3 linked regions of the Homo sapiens genome follow. The protein of the gene in region 1 purifies or fractionates together with the protein of each later gene. This does not show direct contact. Each region holds a gene or a part of one and is shown in the gene's direction. Other genes may lie near its edges.

The links.
Region 2: the proteins of ATP9A (region 1) and ITFG1 fractionate together in Homo sapiens (co-fractionation; one large-scale study listed by BioGRID). This does not show direct contact.
Region 3: the proteins of ATP9A (region 1) and CLEC2D purify together in Homo sapiens (co-immunoprecipitation; one large-scale study listed by IntAct). This does not show direct contact.

The regions. Positions count from the first base shown.
Region 1 is NC_000020.11:51,621,799-51,625,455, reverse strand, and holds part of ATP9A (probable phospholipid-transporting ATPase IIA), read left to right. Parts: intron 1-93; coding exon 94-264; intron 265-3,283; coding exon 3,284-3,382; intron 3,383-3,657. UniProt on the Homo sapiens protein: Plays a role in regulating membrane trafficking of cargo proteins, namely endosome to plasma membrane recycling, probably acting through RAB5 and RAB11 activation. Also involved in endosome to trans-Golgi network retrograde transport.
Region 2 is NC_000016.10:47,451,010-47,454,666, reverse strand, and holds part of ITFG1 (T-cell immunomodulatory protein isoform 1 precursor), read left to right. Parts: intron 1-508; coding exon 509-654; intron 655-1,876; coding exon 1,877-1,934; intron 1,935-3,196; coding exon 3,197-3,271; intron 3,272-3,657. UniProt on the Homo sapiens protein: Modulator of T-cell function. Has a protective effect in graft versus host disease model.
Region 3 is NC_000012.12:9,696,883-9,700,210, forward strand, and holds the end of CLEC2D (C-type lectin domain family 2 member D), read left to right. Parts: 3' UTR 1-2,671; downstream 2,672-3,328. UniProt on the Homo sapiens protein: Receptor for KLRB1 that protects target cells against natural killer cell-mediated lysis. Inhibits osteoclast formation. Inhibits bone resorption. Modulates the release of interferon-gamma. Binds high molecular weight sulfated glycosaminoglycans.

The DNA.
Region 1 (3,657 bases):
GGATCGGGTGTGGCCCTTCCACTCTTGGCACTGGCCAGTCAGCCTGGCCTCTCCTCACCCTAAGCAGTGACTGCATCTGCTGGTGTGTCCCAGGCCCGCTACGTCCAGGCCAAGCTGAGTGTGCACGACCGCTCCCTCAAAGTGGCCACGGTGATCGAGAGCCTGGAGATGGAGATGGAACTGCTGTGCCTGACGGGCGTGGAGGACCAGCTGCAGGCAGATGTGCGGCCCACGCTGGAGACCCTGAGGAATGCTGGCATCAAGGTAGGGCGGGCTGCCCGCAGGGAAGGGCACTCCAGGGCAATGCCAGTTATCCCTCAGCAGTGCAGGGAGATCACAGGGGGAAAGGGTGGGAGGAGCAGCAGAGGACACCAGGAGTGCCTTATCTGCAATGGGCCACAGGCACTGTTTCTGCCCCTCCAACTGTGATTTTTTTTTTTTTTTTTTTTTTGAGACGGGGTCTCGCTGTGTCGCCCAGGCTGGAGTGCAGTGGCATGATCTTGGTTAACTGCAACCTCTGCTTCCTGGATTCAAGCAATTCTTGTGCCTCATCCTCCCTAGTAGCTGGGATTACAGGCACGTACCACCACGCCTGGCTAATTTTTATATTTTTGTAGATAGAGGGTTTCACCATGTTGGCCAGGCTGGTTTTGAACTCCTGACCTCAGGTGATCTGTCTGTCTCAGTCTCCGAAGTGCTAGGATTACAGGTGTGAGCCACTGTGCCTGGCCCTCCAGCCCTGATTTTGGAAGACATCTTGTGTAGCGTTTGCCTTTACTGTACCGATGACTCCCCTGACTCCACTGGGCTCCCTGGTGCTCAAGGCCGAGCAGTGTCCAGCGTGCATGGCTGCTGATTAAATTCTAGTTGAGTGATCAGCACGCCGGTCTGTCTGCCGTGTGGCCAAGTGAGTGAGTGACCACCCAGCAGAGTGACCGTCAGCGCCATCACACTGTCGTATTAGCATTTTGCACTCTACCAGTGGCGACCCAAAAAAAAATACTAGGAGTTGAATCTGGAGGGGCCAGCAGAGGGCGCGTGAGGACCTGGTCCTCAGTGGACCAAGGGAGGTGTGAACAACCAAACTCATTGGCCTGGAGCTCCTGGAAACGTGTGCCTGCCACCGGCCTCCACTCAAAAGTGGCTCTCTGCTGCATCCTGGGGCCTGTCCTTTCAGCAGGGCCATGGCAGGAGGACAGGTTAGATGCCAGGCAACATTCAGGCCCACTGGGGACTCCCACCCCTGCGTGCCTGTTTCCTTGTAAACCCAATTCTGTCGCTTGCATTTGGCTCACAGGCCTGGTTCGTCATAAGGAAATCACCAACGGGACCTTGCTTCCGGAAGTCTGGCCGCTGGAGGCCCATTTCTGCTTCATCGTGGGGTCTGCAGTGGGGCCCTGGCCATTCCTAAGACTTCTGGAGTTTCCATTTTCTGCTTCCATCTTTGTCCTGGGGTTTTTCTCCTTCTCAAAACTATGTTAGCCCAAGACGAGATATTTTATTCACAGAGTGTGCATGTGACTTACCATTCTAGTTTCCTGTTAGATGACAGGAGGAGGGGAGTGCCTGGGATGGGGCAGGTTAGTTGGTAATTAAAGTCTAAGATACGATCTTGCACAGGAAATTTTCTTTTCTTTTCTTTCTTTCTTTCTTTTTTTTTTTTTTTTTGAGACAGAGTTTCACTCTGTCGCCCAGGCTGGAGTGCAGTGGTGCGATCTCGGTTCACTGCAACCTCCACTTCCTGGGTTCAAGAGATTCTCCTGCCTCAGCCTCCCAAGTAGCTGGGATTATAGGTATGTGCCACCATACCTGGATAATTTTGTATATTTAGATATTTAGTAGAGATGGGTTTTCTCCATGTTGGTCAGGCTGGTCTCGAACTCCTGACCTCAAGTGGTCCACCTGCCTCGGCCTCCCAAAGTGTTGGGATTATAGGCGTAAGCCACCGCGCCTGGCTGCACAGGATATTTTCTAAATCAGCCCCTTGTATGGATGTAGAAACTGAGGCTAAGTGAGGCGTCTCCATTCCCCAGGTTCTCACATTGGGAAGCAGCAGAGCCGGGACTGGAGCTGGGGTCTTGGACCCTTCCTGTAGTACCTTGCCTTCATCACAGCATGGGACATTAGCCATGTCGTGCACCTGATCGTTCTTTTCATGCTTTTCTGGAACTTGAACTTCCCAATTCCTTCCCCAGTGTTTGTTCTCTTACCTCAAACCCTGAGAACTATGACTAAACGAAGCTCACCAAAAAGAATATTATTTTTAGGACAGGCGGGATATTGAGGGAAAACAGACCCAGCTAGGGGAGAGGGCCCGGGAGGCTCAGCCCTGAGAGGTGCCCGGTGCCTTCCTTCTGCCCGTCTCACTGCCTGGGTTTCCATCCTACCTCTCCCTTTACTTCTTCTGTGACCCTTGGCAAATGACTGAAGCTCTTAGCGCTTCCATTTCCAGCCTCCAGAAGCTGTCATGAAGGTAACAGAGAGCTCAGCGTGGGTGCTGGGCACGTAGTGGACACTCAGGAGACAATTGTCATGATCTTCTTTCCTATACTTTCCCTCCTATCCAGATTTTCTTTGACCGATAGCCCCAAGACTGCTCCCAGCTGGGAGCAAAGAGAACAAAAGGGTTAATGAGGTAAAATCACAGAGCAGGAAGCACATTCCATGAGGACTCTAAAGACCCGGATTCTGGGCCTGGTTAGGACAAGAGGTAGCTGTGTGGTTTGGGGCAAGTCATCTACCCTCTCTGAGCCCACAGCAGAGAAATGCAGTGTGAGCTAATGCACGATACGGAAGAACCTGACTCATTTACGGTCAGCGTTTTATAAGCTGAGTTAAACCCCAGAAGGGTCTGTCTTGCTCATCCAACTACATAGAAAGTCCACAGCGTCAAAAATGAGTGTTTCCTGTAGGACAGGGAAGTGCCCCCTCACCTGTACAGCCTTTCCCTTCTTTTAGGATATTTATCACTTTAAGAAAAATCCTCAGAAGGGGAATTATGCGGTCCAAGGACCGAGCTTCATAGTACCTCCTGTAGTGTGTGGCCAAATGGCCCTTTCTAGAAGCATCTGCCAGTTTTTGCTGCTACCAGCAGTGGTTGCTTGGAGTCCCAGAGCCCTTCAGCCAGGGCGCTTGCTGTGTTGTGTTGGGGACAGCATGAGTCGGCAGGAGGTAAACGGAACATACCAAGTTCAGCTCCATGTTGTTGGAAACTCAGCTGTTGCAGATGACAGGCCGGCCTCAAAAACTAATAAACAGGACCTCTGTCACGCCATGATTTCAGGTTTGGATGCTGACAGGGGACAAGCTGGAGACAGCTACGTGCACAGCGAAGAATGCACATCTGGTGACCAGAAACCAAGACATCCACGTTTTTCGGCTGGTAAAGTGTCCTCTGCGTTAGGGCCATGTGGGGATGATGTTCGATTTGTCCTATAACCTCCTAACCTTGAGTGGGCCCCTTAAGAAGGGAGGGGCAGCATGTGAATTACCTAGGGTGGGGAGCATCAACCACGGTTGCTTTGGATGGGATGATTAATGACCCAGGCGCCGGCTGGAGAGTTTCTTCCAGTAGTGGTTTGGGAGTACCTCCTTCTAGCCCTGTGCTAATGCCATGCTCTTAACCTTTTGGGGGTCGTGGTCCCTTTGAGAAGCTGA
Region 2 (3,657 bases), on another chromosome or scaffold:
AAAATTCCATTCTTAATTTACTAGCTTTCAGAAATAAAATGATTCTTTTAATTTTTACTGTAAATTTTGAATTTATGTTAAAATCCAAACTAAATATTTTATAAATAATATCTTTTAATTGAAAACATCCCAGTGATAATGCTTACTGCTTTGGCAATTATGAGCCTCCATTTGTTAGAAACACCATCCGAATGTCTTGGTGTCCTTGACAAAGGAACTATATAGAAGGGCTATACTAGCCATTGCTTGAACATAATAAACACGTTTTCTCTCGACATATTTCAGATTTGTCTTGTTTCTTGAGACTATTCTGCATTCATTCTGAACTCTTTTTTAGACCAAAGAGGTCTAAATACATGATGGATGAAAAGATAGGAAAGAGAAGGCAATCAGTCAGTTCTGTTAAGTTTTAAGTTTTTCATTGAAAATATTTTTGTGTGGTAGAAATACAGAATTGTCCTTTTCCATTACAACTTGTCTGATATTTGTAAATGCTTGTTTCTTTTAGGAATCACAGTGCATTGATAACAAGTGTAGTCCCTGGGGATTATGATGGAGATTCTCAAATGGATGTCCTTCTGACATATCTTCCCAAAAATTATGCCAAGAGTGAATTAGGAGCTGTTATCTTCTGGGGACAAAATCAAACATTAGGTGAATTTGTTTTAAAAATTTTTAATATTTATCATTGAATATGAAGGTAAATGTAACAAAATATTGTTCTGAAATCAGTTCAAAAATACTGTTCTTGGGTGTCAATAATTGTAAAACCTTTTTTCAAAGTTTATTTCCTGATTTTTCTTTTTCAACCCTGAACTGGGCAGGGATCACTTCTACTGACAAACTTCATTCTTACTAGCTTAAAGAGGACAGAGATTTATTAAAGGATTTTAGTGGCTCACAGAATCATTGAGATGGCTAAAGAATAAACTCTAGGTTGAGCTTTCAGGAGCAATCCCAATATCATCAAAAAAGCTACTGCCTCTTTCCCCTATCAGAAGTGGCTAGTTACACAACTGCTGCCAGAATGATGCTGTGCCTGCAGTGATTCTCACTAGCAAAATGAATGCTGCACCTGGTCTCTTGATACTCCCAAATTCAGTGAGCAGACACAGATAGAAATAGCAGAGAAACAGCCTTTACCTCATTCATGCCTTTAAGACTCACAGTGTATCTGATTGGCAAGGCTTAACTTTTATTCAGCATCTCAGATGCCACAATATCTGGAAAATGCTATTTTTGGTTTCTAGTCTCCTTAGCACAGGAAAGCACAAAAAAGTTGAAGTATGGTTCGAGAGTCAGTCTACCATACCTAGTCACAAATCATCAAGCCTTATCTGAAAAGCCAATTAGTTATACCTAAATAGGCAACTTTGTTCATGGAGCCAAATTTCAGTCATGTTTTCTGCACCATTTGGGAATGTAAACAGTAATCGCGATACATTATATTCATTAAGTCAATAAATATTTACAGAGGGAGTACCATGCACAAAGCTTGTATATAAGCATGTACATTTTAGAACCAGGAAGTTTTGCATATGTGGCCTTCTTTACACCAAAACCTTGTTAATTGTCAACCTCTCTAGCACTAAATTGTGTAAAGACAAAGACTCAGCTAGCAAATATTTAGATGCATACCTCAAAAGGAGGTTATTGTAATGCTAGTCTTCACTGTAGAATGTATTCTCCCAATATTTTGTCTTTGCAAGCTTGATGTTCATTTGAACTAGATTTATAGTATCTCATTAATGATAATAGTTGGAATAAATCAGAGATAAATCTAGAAAAGAGTAGAAGAATATTTTTTCCTAAGCATAGATATCAAAAGTAATATAAAATGCCTGCTAATTCATATATATATATATCTTTTTTGCAGATCCTAACAATATGACCATACTCAATAGGACTTTTCAAGATGAGCCACTAATTATGGAGTAAGTATGGGCTTGCTTCCTTTGAAACGATTTTAAACTTAAACATAAAATAAAATCTTCACATAGGAAACTACTTTGCTTAGTAATAAAAATACTAAATTCACTCAGAGGCCTGTACCTTTGATTATATTGTATTTATTTGCCATCAGATAGGACAAAGAAAAATGAAATTTATTATTTTGGAAAGTAGAAGAGATTTGTGTTTTTATTTCAGTCGCTTCAAATGTGTCCATTATGGATCTATGCTGTCATTACTGAAAGAATTAAGATACCTGTTTTTGAGTAAAACTGTTATATTTGATATTTAGGATACAGTTTCCTCTAGAAATTTAGAAAGATTCCTATATTAAGGAGAAATTTTTGTTCTTTTTATAATATAACTCCTGCTTTGTGTTATCATTTATATTCTCACTGTAGACTCATGTACCAGCATAATTGATTTAAATAATTGATGTAAATTTGGATTTGCAAATTTCTGACAGCGTATTTTGGTAGAGGTCGAGATCATTCCCGGGACTAGAGCAAAGTTTGGCCACATTCTTGTTTCCAGTACTGTCTTTCTTACAGTTATTAAAATCATACCCATACAGCAGTGTGTCAGTGGCCATTAGAAGTCTGAACTGTAAATCCATGGATTAATCTTCTTAACGGTGCCCCGCTAGATTTCTTTCATAGTTGTGTATTTTTTCATTGTTGTTAAAATATTCAATGGCCAGTATGAAGTTTTATACCAACTAGGATTATTTTTCTAGGTTATTTCTCCTAAGCCCATCTAAGTAAACAAGTTGGCTTAGGATTCTGAAGTAAGTTTCTAGGAATTAGTGCTGTATCCTTATCATTCAAGGGTAGTCTAGATAATGCAAAGATTACAGAGATACCCAAAATCTCACAAAACGAATTTATTTCTTGCTCTTACTATATGTCCAGTGTGGGTCAACAACAGGCTCTGCTCTGTGCTGTTGCTTAGAGTCAGGCCATCAGAGAGCCCACTGTCTTTGTAGCTAGTCCATCTGAATCACAATGCCTTCTCATTGCCATGGCAAGCCTGGAGAGGGCTGGAGGGGCTGGTAACAGAAATTATACACTTTGGCCTAAAAGTGACACATGTCACTTGTGCTGACATTTGACTTAATACTTATCACTAGATACTGGCGAGCATTGTAATGTCTACCACACTTCCCAAAAGTTACTGCTTCTTTTAAAGCTAAATTAGAAGTAAGAATTTAAAGAAATAGCTGCTTATTGTTTTAATTTTTTTTCAGTTTCAATGGTGATCTAATTCCTGATATTTTTGGTATCACAAATGAATCCAACCAGCCACAGATACTATTAGGAGGGTGAGTAAATATGGTTATAACTATGTAATTAATCGTATATATTGCTTCTACTTTAACCATTGGAGAAAAAATAGCTCATTGGAATCCTTGTTTTTAAAGATTTTTAAGTGGGCATTTGGTTAATATATATAAGCTTTCTCAAATAGTTTGGATTTGGCCTGCACCTGCTTTCCAAGGGCCAGCTTACTCCTTTTATCTCTTTGAAAAATTAGAGATTGAAACTTTACGGGTCCCCATTTAAATATTGGTTCATTAAATGTTTTTGAAATGGATAGATTTCACGTAAATAGGGAGGATACCTGCAGTCTTGAGTGGATCCTCCCTATCTTAGTACCTTAGTCATGTTAGCTGCTAGACTTTAATTGATAAGATTTGTTTCTTTCTGT
Region 3 (3,328 bases), on another chromosome or scaffold:
CACCACCTCATAAAGATATCTGCTTTCCTGTTTATTATAACACATCTTTATTCATAATAGCCAAGATACGGAACTAACTGAAGTGACCATTAACAGATGAATGGATAAAGAAATTGTCATATATATAAAACACACACATTATATACATACATACATATATATATATATATAAAAAATAGAATATTATTCAGCCTTGTAAAAAGAAATCCTGTTATGTTGGGAACAAGCCCCCCAAAATCTGGCCATAAACTCACCCCAAAACTGGCCATAAACAAAATCTCTGCAGCACTGTGACATGTTAGTGATGGCCATAACACCCACGCTGGAAGGTTGTGGGTTTATGGGAATGAGGGCAAGGAACACCTGGCCTGCCCAGGGTGGAAAACCACTTAAAGGCGTTCTTAAGCTACAAACAATAGCATGAGCGATCTGTGCCTTAAGGACATGTTCCTGCTGCAGTTAACTAGCCCAATCTATTCCTTTAATTCGGCCCATCCCTTCATTTCCCATAAGGGATACTTTTAGTTAATTTAATATCTATAGAAACAATGCTAATGACTGGCTTGCTGTTAATAAATACATGGGTAAATCTCTGTTCTGGGCTCTCAGCTCTGAAGGCTGTGAGACCCCTGATTTCCCACTTCACACCTCTATATTTCTGTGTGTGTGTCTTTAGTTCCTCTGGCGCTGCTGGGTTAGGATCTACCCGACTGAGCTGGTCTCAGCACTGTTATTTGAAACAATGTAAATAAACCTATAGGGTTTATTATATATACTAAGTGAAATAAGCCAGACACAGAAAAAAAATGTTGCATGATCTCACTTATAGTGAAACTTAAAAAAAAAACCCAAATACATAGAAATAGAGTAGAATGGTGGTTACCAGAGATGAGGAAAATACAGAGACACAGGTCAAAAGATACAGAGTTGCAGTTACAAAGGGTGAGTATGTCTAGATATCTAACATACAGTATGAGGACTATAATAGTATTGCACTGTGTACTGAAAACTTGATGACAGATTTTAGATATTCTTACCACACAGACAAAAAGAAATGTAAGTATGTGAGATGAAGCTTATGTTAATTAGATTAAGTGTATGTACATAAAAACATCACATTATACACATCAAATATATACAATAAAAAAGCACATTGGGAGATACATGATAAATTTCTATCTGCAGTTGCTATTTGCATTTTTAAAGGATATTTTTATTTTTTAAATTTTTAGCTGACAACTGTATAATTATGGAATACAATGTGATGTTCTGATATATGTGTACACTATGGAATGATTAAATCAAACTAACATTTCATCATCTCACATACTTATCATTTTCTGTGGTGAGAACATTTGAAATTTATTCTCTTGACAATTTTGAAAGATCCAATACACTATTATTAACTATAGTCACTATGCTGTGCAATAGATCTCAAAAGCTTATTCCTCTTAACTGAAACCTACTACCCTGTGACATGTGGGGAACATCTCTCTATTCCCCAGCCCCAGTCCCTAAATGTTGAATACACAATGGGGAAAAAATAGTCTTCAATGAATGGTGGTGGGAAAATTGTATATCCACATGCAGAAGAATAAAATTGGACCCTTACCTCCTACCATATATAAAAACCAACTGAAAATCGATTAAAGACTTAAACTGTAAAACTACTAAAAGAAAATATAGGGAGAAAGCTTCACAACGTTGGTCTGGGCAATAATTTTTGGATTTGACCTCAAAAGTAGATGCAACCACAGTGAAAATAAACAAATGAAATTGCATAAAATAAAAAATGTTTCTGCACAGCAAAGGAAATAATTAATGGAGTAAAGAGACAACTTACAGATTGGGAGAATATATTTCCAAACTATTGTTGGGGCTCAGAAACGGATACCCTAACATATAGTGATTTGACAGGTGGAACTAAAGAAGACTCGAGGTCTCTCTGACCTCCTCCTCAACCTCTGTTTCTTAATCCTCTGTTTTCCCAGAGCACAGGAGGAAGTTCTCTGAAGTTCCTTTATCTGCTTTAAGTTCAGACTCACCAAATAAGAAAACAGTTAATTCTGGTGCCTTCCATGGGTTTTCATTAACTGAAGTCATATTGTAGGAAAAAGAATGAAGTCTCTTAACCCACCTGGATAGATTTTTCTCACAAACCATTGTCTTCTCTGCAAGCCCAGTAGACTTTGTCCCAGGCCATTTATGTGATCTTCACCCCATTAAGTTCTCCCCAAATTATTTACTCTTCCCCCAAAATCACCCACACTTCCCCATCTCCCTCTCCCCTAAGGACAAGGGTATATCACCATCTATACCCCATTGCTTGGTGGGGTGATCACTCTGATTCTCTGCATGCATTTTTATAGATTTGTTTGCCATTTATCCTATTAATCTGCATTCTGTCAATTGTGGCAAGTTATCAGCATATTTTTTAACTTTTAATTATTCTTAATGGAAAGACACTTCTGTATACACTGGAAATCTCAGGAAATTTCTTTTTTCCTTAAGCTTAATTGAAATGTTTACTTTTCAGTAAAATTTCAAGCTTGAGTAATGTTCATGCCTGCTTTTCATTGAAATAGAATGAAAAGGTTGCACAATATTATTTTCATGAAATTACTTCTAGTATAATTCTGAATAAACACTTTGAAAGGCAGTGAACTGTAAATATATTACAGCTATCTCTTATTCTTCAGGGTGGGTCTCAATTATGTAAAAGATGATTGGCTTTCTGTTTTAAGTAATAGTCATTTTGAAAACACTTTAAAACTGTCAAGTGAAGTGTGATGGCTAATTTTATATGTCAACTTGACTGAGATAAGGTATACTCAGCAGGGAAAGCATTATCTCTGGATGTGTCTATGAGGGCTTTTCTGAAAGAGATTGATGTTGGAATCACTAAGCTGTGTAAAGATGATCTACCTTCACCAATGTTGGCAGGCATCATCCAATCCGTGCAGGTCTTACCCAAACAGAGCAAAAAGTCAGGTAGGGTAAATTTATTCTCTTCTAAAGCTAGGGCATCCATTTCTTTCTACTCTCAGACATTGGAGTTCCCCAGTTTCCCAGACCTTTGGCCTTACACTGAGAATTATGCTTTGTTTTATTTAGGCATATTTTAATAATACTTCATGTATTGGTCAGGAAGACATTTCCTGGTTCTAAGGCTTTCGACTCAGACTAGATTACAACACTGGCTTTCCTGGTTCTCTAGCTTGCAGAAGAGAATACTAGGAAGCTTGTACTTCCTACATAGGTAAGAAGAGGAAACAATCTCTGGCTTAGAAACTATGTAACCAACCACAATTCACAAAGATTCCATAAT